Regions from separate parts of the Homo sapiens genome. Here region 1 is linked to region 2. The links come from fine-mapping of genetic effects on gene expression. A gene starts in region 2. The other region holds a variant in brackets. All regions are shown on one strand. Distances are between the middles of the regions. Region 1 overlaps FBLN2 (fibulin 2). Region 2 holds the start of FBLN2 (fibulin 2).

Region 1 (5,367 bases), 59 kb after region 2:
CTGTCATGTGTTCTTGCAAAGTATGCATTGTTATTTTATGTGTGATAGTTTAAATTTGTATAGTAGAACTGATTTGGCTTCTTCCTTTTCTCCCTTAGTGCTGTGTTCCTCCACACTTCTGTGTGTTGGTGTGTCCAGCTCATGCTGCTGTGTGTGTATCCAGTCTATTGTTTCTGACAGCTCCTGCATGTAGCATGGCCCCAGATTTTCCTCATCCTCCCCCCCAGTGATGGACACCCAGGCTGTCCGCAACCCCTTTCCACAAATAACACTTGACATGGGCATCCTTGTACTGGTTGTGTTACGGGCTGTCGTGAGGACTTCCCTGGCACAGACACCAGGAGCAGAGCGTCTGGGTCCTTGATGTTGCGTGTGCTTAACTGTATAAGTGGTGCCACATCTCTCCAGCTGGCCGCAGTCTCCTCTCCCACCCTAGACACATGGACATGCAGCAGTGTAGAGGAATACAGCACTAAGGGAGAAAAGGGGGTCCCCACCTCTGTGTGGCATTTCTCACTCTTACTCATATTTCTAGTTTAATGGATATTTTATTATTATTTTTTGAGACAGAGTCTCATTCTGTCACCCAGGCTGGAGTGCAGTGGCTCCATCTCAGCTCACTGCAACCTCCAACCCCCCTCCCCATCCCTGGGCTCAAGCCATCCTCCCACCCCAGCTTCCCGAGTAGCTAGGCTAACTTTTTGTGGAGTTGGAGATTCGCCATGTTGTCCAGGCTGGTCTCGAACTCCTGAGCTCAAGTGATGAACCCACCTTAGCCTCCCAAAATGCTGGGATACAGGCGTGAACCACCACATCTGGCCTAAGGAGTATTTTACTTTGGAGTTCTTTTTTCTCTTGTTAATTTTCAGGAGTTTATTATGTTTTGTAGATGGCAATTCCTTGTCAGTTTTGGACATTCCAGAAACATTTCTTAATATGTCAGCAGTCTATTATATGTGTACATGGAGTTCTTTGTTATACATATTGGAATTTTGAGGTAATCAAATTCATTAATTTTTGTAACCTATAGCCTGTGCCTTTGAGTTTTAAGACATTCTCCCCTACCTTTGACTCCTTCCAGCCTCCCCAGTCACAAATACAGTTGAACCTTGAACAACTCAGGAGTGAGGGGTGCTGACCCGACTAACAGTCAAGAATCCACATGTAACTTTTGACTCCTCAAAAACTTAACTAATAGCTGACTGTTGACAGGAAGCCTTACTGATAGCACAAATAGTCAATTAACACATATTTTATATGTTATATATATTATATACTGTATTTTTTTTTTGAGATGGAGTTTCACTCTTATTGCCCAGGCTGAAGAGCAGTGGAATGATCTCAGCTCACCACAACCTCCGCCTCCCAGGTTCCAGTGATTCTCCTGCCTCAGCCTCCCGAGTAGCTGGGTTTACAGGCATGCGCCACCATGCCTGGCTGATTTTTTGTATTTTTAGTAGAGACGGAGTTTCTCCATGTTGGTCAGGCTGGTCTCAAACTCCTGAACTCAGGTGATCCTCCTGCCTAGGCCTCCCAAAGTGCTGGGATTACAGGCATGAGCCACCGTGCCCGGCTGACTATATTCTGTATTCTTTTCTTGTTGTTGTTTGTTTGTTTGTTTTTTCCCCGGGACGGAGTCTTGCTCTGTCACCCAGGCTGGAGTGCAGTGGCACAATCTCGGCTCACTACAACCTCTGCCTCCCAGGTTCGAGCAATTCTCCTGCCTCAGCCTCCTGAGTAGCTGGGATTACAGGTGCCTGCCACCGTGCCTGGCTAATTTTTGTATTTTTAGTAGAGACAGGGTTTCACCCTGTTGGCCAGGCTGGTCTTGAACTCCTGACCTCGTGATCTGCCCGCCTCAGCCTCTCAAAGTGCTGGGATAACAGGCATGAGCCACCGCACCCAGCCTATATTCTGTATTCTTAAAGTAAGCTTGAGAAAAAAAAATGTTATTAAGAAAATCGTAAGAGAAAATATGTTTACTATTCATGCAGTGGAAGTGGACCATCATAAAGGTCTTCATCCTCACTGTCTTCAGGCTGAGTAGGCTTAGGAGGGGGAGGAGGAGGAGGGGCTGGTCTTGCTGTCTTAGGGGTTGCAGAGGTGGAAGAAACTGCTGTGTTGTTCCAGGGGTCAAGTGTGTATTCAACATAAAACTTCCGTGAATTTCCTGGATGAGCTTAAACTTCCCTTGCTGCCACTGCTGCTGTTTTCGTATCTCTTGCCCTGTCTTAGCATCTTAGGTTGGGTTCCTTAGAAGCAGAGCCTGAGTTGGGGGGTCTTGTGCATGTGTTGGTTCATTTGGGGAGACCTCTCAGGAGAAACTCTGAGGAGTGAGGGATGAGAGGTGGACAAAGCTGTGGCCCACGTGAGGTCTGACCCTGTGGGAGCTCTAGAGTGTGAGTGGCCCCCATAGAACTGGCTGCTTTGAGAGTGGGGGCTGAGCTCTGGCCCCATGTTA[A/G]CCTGTTATGGGCTGGGCTCCTCCCAGCCCCCATAGGGAGGACTCCACCTCGCAGACAGTTCACCAAAGACAGTTGTGTTGTGAGCTGTTAGCGACCAGCATGCACAGCAGCAGGGGTGGATGAGTTTGCCTGCCCAGTAAAGGAGACCTGGACAGGCCCCTGCATATCTGCTGGACTTGGTGACTTATGAATGGTGACTCTGCCTCATGTTGCTATCCACAGGCTCCACCAAGGACCTGATCGAGACTTGCTGCGCAGCCGGACAGCAGTGGGCCATTGACAATGACGAGTGCCTGGAGATCCCTGAGAGTGGCACTGAGGACAACGTCTGCAGGTAGGGTGGGCTCCCTGGAGCAGGCGGAGCTGCCCATTTGCCTTCTCCAGAACCCTGCTTGCCTAGGACCCCAGGCTCCAGGCAGCCCGGAGAGAGTGCACCTTCACATGCCTCTGGGGCATGAGGGTGATTGGGTGTGGCTGCCGTGCGCCATCTGGCCAGGCTTTCTCCAGGGGTGGAAAGTCCAAGACTGGTCCTAGGAACAAACCAGCCACATAAATTGGTAGCTGGCCTAGTGAGCAAGATCCGAGGAATGTACAATTTGAAACAAGTTTTAAAGGAGTGCTGTCCCCTAGGAATAGTCGGGTGCTCCCCTCACCACATTCTGCAGTTGCTGCCGCACTCATGCCACTCAGGCTTTCTCTCCTCTGCCCTCTTCCTTTCTCTGCTTTGCTACCCTTGGGTCTTCAGGAGGCTGGCCTCTCACTGTGCTCCCTTGCTGCTGTGCTGGTTGTTTCTTCTGACTCTGATACCACAGCAAAGCAATCCTTTATCCCCATGCCTTCCCTTTTCCAGGCCCAGGAGAGCTCTTGGTCAGCTGCTCATGCTTTGTTTTTTTCCAGGGACCCCGTCTAACCTACTCATTTTTCCAAATAAGAAAGATTAAGTTCAGAGAGGCAGTGTGATTCACTCAAAACTACACAGCTCACTGGCAGCATGGCTGGGATTAGACCCCATGTTTCCCAATGTCCAGACCACTCTGCTTCCTATAAAAAAAATTTATGTTCTAACCTTGTCTTTCCCTTCAGCCATTCTACCAATATGGGGCAACTTAGGAGTTAGAGCATGCAGCACTGGGACCCCTGGAGTTTGGGGCTAAGCGGTCCTAGTGCATGCTTGCATCCGTCTTGTGGACGTGTCCCACTTCAGGGGGTGCTGAGCCCTGTCCCCCGTAATCCCCGCCGCCCTGTCCTGGCTCTGGTCTCTGCAGCTGATTTGTCAGCCACCTCTGCCCCAGGCAGCCCAACAGTGACTGGCAGGCAGTGACCAGGGACCCGGAGGCTGTGCTCCTCCAGGCTGACCTGCCAGCCTTTTCTGGGATTAGGTCTCTCTGTCCTCCCCGACCGTTGTGGGGGTGGGGACTCTGATGCCAACCCCTCTCTCTCAGAGGTCATGAACACACATCTCCGAGTCTAGTGGGACCCAGGCCTGCATCTGCATGGTTAAGCCAAGAAATGAAACCCATGCAACCCAGTGGAGGTTGTGCCGGCTCTGCCACCTGCACCGGCTCCCTTGCTGTGGACCTTGGGCAGAGCTTCCCTCCTCTGAGCCTCACTCACTTTCCACTCTGGGAGGATGAGGTGGGCGACTGGGGGCTAAGTTACCCCCTCTGTTTCAGGACAGCCCAGAGGCACTGCTGTGTCTCCTACTTGCAGGAGAAGAGCTGCATGGCCGGCGTCCTGGGAGCCAAGGAGGGTGAGACCTGTGGGGCTGAGGACAACGACAGCTGCGGCATCTCCCTGTACAAGGCAAGCCTGACCTGTGGCCTTCAAGGCAGGGTGGGGTGGGGCGGGGCGGGAGGCTGGCCTGGGCCTGAAGGTCCTCGTGGCCCAAGAAGTTAGGCTGTCCTTGGGGCTCCTCCTGGGAGTGACCCTCACGCCTGGGGTGGAAGGACTCTTAATCTGCGCAGAAAACATCATCAGTTATTATACTGACCAATTAATTCACAGAATATTTGTAGAGCACCACTGTGTGCCCTGGGCATCAGGGATGTAGCAGTGAGTAACACAGATGGCAATTCCCGCCCTCCCAGGGATTTCTTTCTGGCCAGGAAGACAGAGGAAGATCACGATGAATATTTTAGCACCTGGCGTGGTTGCAGGCGATTGTGCTAAGGAGAAAAACTTAAGGAGAGGTGGGATAAGTAGTGTCAGGGCTGGGGAGGGACTGCAGTATCAGCTGACAGTGGCCAGGGACAGCCTCACTGAGGAGGGGACATTTGTGCAATGCCCGGGGTGGGGGATGTCTGTGAAATGCTTTCAGGCAGAGTGCAGCACATGCAAAGGCCCTGGGGTCAGAGCCTGCTTGGCATGTCTAGGCTGTGTGGCTGGAGTGCATCGAGTGACAGGGGGCAGGTGGAGCTGAGCCCAGAGAGATGTCAGGGCTCCTGGCCATCATCGGAAGGACTGTGGTTTGACTGTGGGTGAGGTGGACCCCATGGGGAGTTTGAGGGTCTCTTCTGGCAGTTGTGGGGACCGGTTATTGAGGGTGTTTCTCTCACATGGGAGGTGGGATTGGGATGGGGTAAAACCCCACCAGGCAACAGTGGTGCAGAGAACAGTGTGAACTAACACACAGGCGAGGACGTTGGGAAATGGGGTGTGTGGTCCAGTGGTCTGGCAGCAGTAGAGACAGGCCACCGGGAGTCCTCAGGCTGGACCATAAAGGACAGTAAATGCTGAGAGCTTTCGGCTTCAAGCAGTGTCTGTAAAGCCGTGGGAGGGATTTGCAGCAGGAGATCAGTTTGTCTACTAGAGCTCATGGTGGCCACTGGCGGACAGGGTGTCAGTTTGGCTACAAGTAATGGAAAACTTCCTGGAACACTGGTTTTTCTCTCATATGCTGCAGGCT
Region 2 (5,367 bases):
GGATTTAAATCAAAGCCATTGGGTCCCAGAACCCATGCTCCAACGTAGGCAGCCTCCCCAAGGCTACCCAGTGAGGATGCAGACCCAGGAAGCTCAGCAAGGCTTCTCTTCCCAATCCAGGCTGCACAGGTGGGACAAGTGAGCCTCATGCCTGCTGGCCCTGGCGCCTCAGTGCCCAGGGAGCTGGTGAGATTGTCACTGATGTAAATAACTTCGCTGCCCACTGTGATCATTCTGTCTAGGCCTTATCAGCCTGACTTCCTCCAACCATTTCTCAGCCAGGCCCTGGGCCCCAAATTCCTGGTGGGTGATGCGTGCTCTGTCTGCGATAACAGTCTTGGAAGGGCTCTGAAGGGACAGCCGCTTTGGCCGCATCTCCGGCTCAGATAACAGGACGGGAGAAGTGTCTCCACTTTATCTTGTGGAAGGCGGGCCAGGCCTTGGGCTCCCTGGGCTGCAGAGTGAGCTGCATCTGGCTCAGTGCCTCTCCTCCCAGGCCTGGGGAAGGGAGCCTCATTAGCAGCTGCCCAGGGTCTCTATCACCCCAGGCCACTGCCCCTCCTTCCCCCACAGGAGGAAGGATTCAATCTGTCATTTACTCATCAGATATTTACTGAGCACTCCCTTGGGTCAAGTCCCATCCAAAGTACAGATAATCCCTGACTTACGATGGTTCGATTTAGGATTTTTTGAATTTAGGATGTTGAGAAAGTGGTACACACCCAGGAGAAACCCTACTTGGAATCCCCAGGCAATCATTCTGTTTTTCACTTTCTGTGCAGTATTCAATGAGTTACATGAGATATTCAATGCTTCATTATAAAATAGGCTTTGTATTAGATGATTTTGCCCACCCGTAGGCTAGTAATGGAAGTGTTCTGAGCACATTTAAGGTAGGCTTGGCTGAGCTATGATGTTCTGTAGGTTAGGTGGATGAAATGCATTTTCAACTTACTATATTTTCGATTTACGATGGGTTTATGGGGACATGATCCCATTATAATCGAGGAGCATCTGTACTTTCGGTTTGGCTCATTTCGGTTCATTTGATCTTTCCAATAACATTATAAGATAGGCTTTGATGTCGTTATGTTCATTTTACAGTTGAGGAAATAAAGCCCAGAGAGGTGAAGTAACTTGCCCAAGGTCACACAGCTGGTGTGTGGTGACTTTCTTAATGACCAGGTGATCCTACCTATAGTCATTTATAAATGAATAAGAGAAATCAGCCAGTGACAAGTACTGTAATAACAGTGCGGCCGAGTCCCAGGGTGGAGAGTGGTAGTTGCTACCTCTGCTGGGGTCTCAGGGAGGGCTTCTCTGGGGGTGGTGGGATTTCAGCTGCATCTTAATGCAGGGATGAGTCAGCCACGGTGGATCTGGGGAAGAGCATCCCAGGCAGAGGGAACAGCAATGGCAAAGGCCCTGAGGGAACAGCAAGCACAGAGCTCCAATGGGGAAACGGGCCCAGAGGGAAGGCACCTGCCTGGGGTTAGACACAAGTTGGGGCAGGCCAGGCACAGGCTGCCAGCTCAGGCTTTGGCCCCTCCATCCGCTCCTGGCTTCTCTGTGGGTGGCCCCATCTAAGCCAATGGGCCCTTCCTGGCTCCACCTCCTCTCTGCTGTGCGGCCCTGGGCAGGCAGCTGCCCTGCCCTGTGCCTTTGCTCTTGGCTGCCTCACCCCTGTCCTGGGCTGCAGGGAGACCCCTGGGGGTGGGGGCAGGCACACTTTGGGCCCATGGCTGCTGCTCAGATGTGAGGTGGTGACCACCAGGCCATACGTCTCTGGACAGGGATGGGAGAGACTCAGAGAGACACAGAGACCAAGAGATAAAGTCAGAGGGAGATGCAGAGACCAAGAGGGACAAACCAAGGGAGACAGAGAGATGACATTAGATCAGAGATGGAGACCCCGAAAGAGACCCAGAAAGGGATCGGTGTGGGCTGGGGGAAGAGACACCCCGGGGGTCACACAGTGGTCACAGGCATCAGAGCTGGGCTGAGGAAAAGGACAAACTGAACCTGTTCCAAAGCTGGGGGCTCAGTACCGTCTGCCCAGGCACATGCAGCAGCAGTGGGGCTGCAGGCAGGCCCCCAGGGTAGGAAGCAAGGCGGGTGGGAGGCAGGGCCTGGCCTCTGGGCAGTTTTGTAGCCGGGCCCCTCAGGCCCTCACAATGTGCCCAAGGCTGCTGGGCCCATCTTCCAGGGGTGATCACTGAGGCTCAGGCTGGCTGAGGTGGCCGGACCCCAACCCCTGGCCCTGCCCTGTGGGCAGCAGTGCCAGGTCTGGCACTCAGAGGTTAGGCCGGGCGCAGGGAGGGTGCGGGCTCCGCAGCGAGCGCGCCGGGCGGCCTCTAGGAGCCGGGTCAGCGAGTCTGGGCTCTGAGCGAGCGGCGCCGGCCCGGCCCCCTCTCCGGCGGGCGGCCGAGACCCCGCCCCGGAGGCGGAGGCGGAGTCAGGGGAGGGGGCCGGGGGCCGGCTGGTCCCGCCTCTCGCGCCTCCGCCCCGCCCCGCGCGCACACAGCCAGGGGCCGCCCGGGCTCTCGACGCGCCGACGGCCGGGCGGACGGACGGACGGACGCCGAGCGCAGTGCCCCGCGGTGAGTGCACGCGGCCCCTCCCGCCCGGACTCATCCCCGTCGGTCCGCGCCTCGCAGCTCAGGACTCGGGGGCGCTCGGACGCACCGACGGCTCGGCGGACCCTCGGACGCGCCTCGCGGGCTGCCCGCGCCTCCACCCGCGCCGCCGGTCCGACCGGGTCTCGCTCTCCCGGTCCCAGCGCGGGGACGGCCCGCGAGCGCCGCGACCCAGTGTACAGATGCGGGCACAGAGGCCGGCGCGGGGTGGGGGCCAGGGGTCCGCGGGCGGGTTCCCCCACCCCAGGTCCGCAGCTTCCTCCGCTCTGGGTTTCACTTCTCCCCCCTGGGCCGGCTCCCACCAGTCATCCCCTCTGGTCCCACTGCCCACCCCCACCCCGACCGCAGGACCTTGCCGCCCCTCCAGTCCAGAGGGCCGGGTCAACCCCCTCGGGGAAAGAAGACTAGAGTCCCTGGTCTAACACTACCCCCTCCATCACCCCCAAGTCACACTCACCGCCACACACGCACTCACACAAGCAGAAGTTTCTGCACGCTCTGCATTGGCGCGCCCACCCTGCCTGTCACCACATCCTCCCTCTCCCAGCCCCATGCTCACCCCGCCAGCTCCCCCAGGCCAGAATCTCTCACACTCATCTCACGTCCCCTTAGCACACAATGCTCCACACACACATGCCTTGCACATTGGCACCCCTCCGAGGCATGCCTCTAGCAGACAGTTGTGTCTCTGATAAACACATGTGCCCTTACTGCCCTCTGACACGCACACACGTCCGCCACACAGGGGTAGCTATCACATGCATATCTCCATCATATGTATCACACATGTGTCTCTCACATGCGTGTGCTCCTCAAATACCTGGAATCACAAACACTGGGAGTGCCACACACTGTGAGTCTCACATACGAGTCACAGACCCCCACGACTTCACAGTCCCAGCCCCCCTGGCACTCCATGGGCAGTCCTCCCCTGTCCTAGGGGGTGGGGAGCCGATTTTGGAGGAGGGAGGTGGTTCCTCCTGACAGAGGCTGCTTACCATGGGACCTGGGTGGCTGTGGGGAGCATGGGGGTGGCTCAGCCTCAGGCTGGGCCTGACTCCTCACCTCCGTGCATCCTCTCTCCCTTCCCCTGCTCCAGTCTCCGAAATAGGGGTGCCCTCCCTCCCTTTTTTGCTGCCACAAGGAGTTGCCCATATCAGCTTTGCAGTGATCACTTGGGCCAGTCCCAAGCAGGCCTGAGCCAGCAGGCGTCCCCTGACAGGCCAAAAAGAGAAAAAGGGAAGTCAAACAGGATGGTTTGGGTGCTTGTGTCTACCCTGATGCCCCTGAGATGCTGGTCCGGGCCCTCCCAGAGGGAGCCCTGATGAATTGGGTGGCAGCTGAGAAGTGTTCCCTCAGCCTGGCATGGATTGGGAGCTGGTGTGTGTTTGTGGCTGATAGGGGCTCTGGGCCTTAACTTCCCCATATGCCAAATGGGGTGAAGACTCCCCAGCAGGAGGAAGAGAGGGAGGGGGAGCTACTCCCCTGGGGTGCACCCTTGACTTCCCGCCCTCCCCTTCTGCAGCTGAGCTGTGTGATGGGGGTGAGCAGGGGATGAAGTCAAAGAATCTTATTCTGGAGGCACAAACCTGCCAGCCCCGGCTGTGGCTGGCCCTGCATGTTTTGTTTGGCTCTCACCATGTTATTATTATTTTAAAAAATTAATTAGCTGCCTGCATTTACAAATTGGCAGTTTTCACGTAAAAGTCCGGATTTCCGTCTTCTCTTGAAAAGTCACAAGGTCTGGTAGTTCAGGATCTGCATCTCCTGGCTGGTGCTGCCCACCCCCAACCCAGGGGATGGGGCAGGGGCGCTGTTTGGTCCCCGTCCCCACCTGGCCCTCTCATGCCTTCTCAGCTCCTGCCTGGCCTGCGTGGCCTTTGTGCGGCTGTGACTGCTGCATGCATTGGGCTGATTTTGCTCCATTGCCCGCCTCAAGCATAGGCCCAGGCTGGTCCTCCATGCATGGCTGGGGAAGCCCTGGGCGGGCCTCCTACCCTTCGAGGCCTTAGTCGTTGAAGCAATGAGTGGTGCCCAGGGCCCTGGGCCACAGGGCATCTTTGTGATGGTGGCAGACACTTCCTGCTAGGCTGTGGGGGACGGTGGTATGGGGACCCCGTGAAGCAAGAGCTCATGCCAGAGAGCATTCTCCGAGGCAGGCTTTATTCATCACTTTTCTTCCCAGATCCCGACATCCCTCCTGCAGGGTGGAACTCTTGCACCTATTTAAGAGACGGGGAAGGGGAGGTAGAGAAAGGGCCTCCCAGCAGGCAAGGGGGAGAGCTGGGGTTCAGCCCAGGATCTTTTCCCTCCAAAGCAAAGCTCTTTGCCCCTCTTACTGAGCCACTAGTGGGAGGACTTGGTCTCCTTGGCCGTGGGGGGAGTGCCCTGAGCCCATCCACACCTCACACGCAATAGGTGCTTCGTAAATGCTTGGGGCATGCTGATGGTAAGTGAAACTGGGTTCTCTGCAGCAAATTCGGGCCTAAGGTGAAGATTGCACAGCCACTTGACCTCCATCTCTTGACCTCGTGATCCGCCCGCCTCAGTCTCCCAAAGTGCTGGGATTACAGGTGTGAGCCACCGTGCCCGGCCCCTCCTTTTTTTTTTTTTTTTTAAAGACAGGATCTCGTCCTGTCTCTCAGGCTGGAGTGCAGTGGTGTGATCACAGCTCACTGCAGCCTCAAACTCCTGGGCTCAAGTGATCCTCCAGCCTCAGCCTCCCAAGTAG

What was found. PIP is the estimated chance that this variant, and not a neighbour inherited with it, causes the effect.
Region 1: its variant is the best candidate, but not a certain one, in a credible set for the expression of FBLN2 in tibial artery (GTEx, PIP 0.89).

Annotation. Positions count from the first base shown.
Region 1 is chr3:13,605,378-13,610,744 of GRCh38, forward strand. FBLN2 (fibulin 2) reads left to right here. Exons shown (of 18, transcript NM_001004019.2): 3 at 2,685-2,796; 4 at 4,136-4,265. Among named protein-coding and RNA genes, the nearest start is that of SNORA93, 10 kb to the right of the region's middle. The variant A/G (reference allele first, on the strand shown) is at 2,462.
Region 2 is chr3:13,546,609-13,551,975 of GRCh38, forward strand. It overlaps FBLN2 (fibulin 2), which reads left to right and starts at 2,517. Exons shown (of 18, transcript NM_001004019.2): 1 at 2,517-2,600. RefSeq lists enhancers at 3,880-4,488, 4,489-5,095.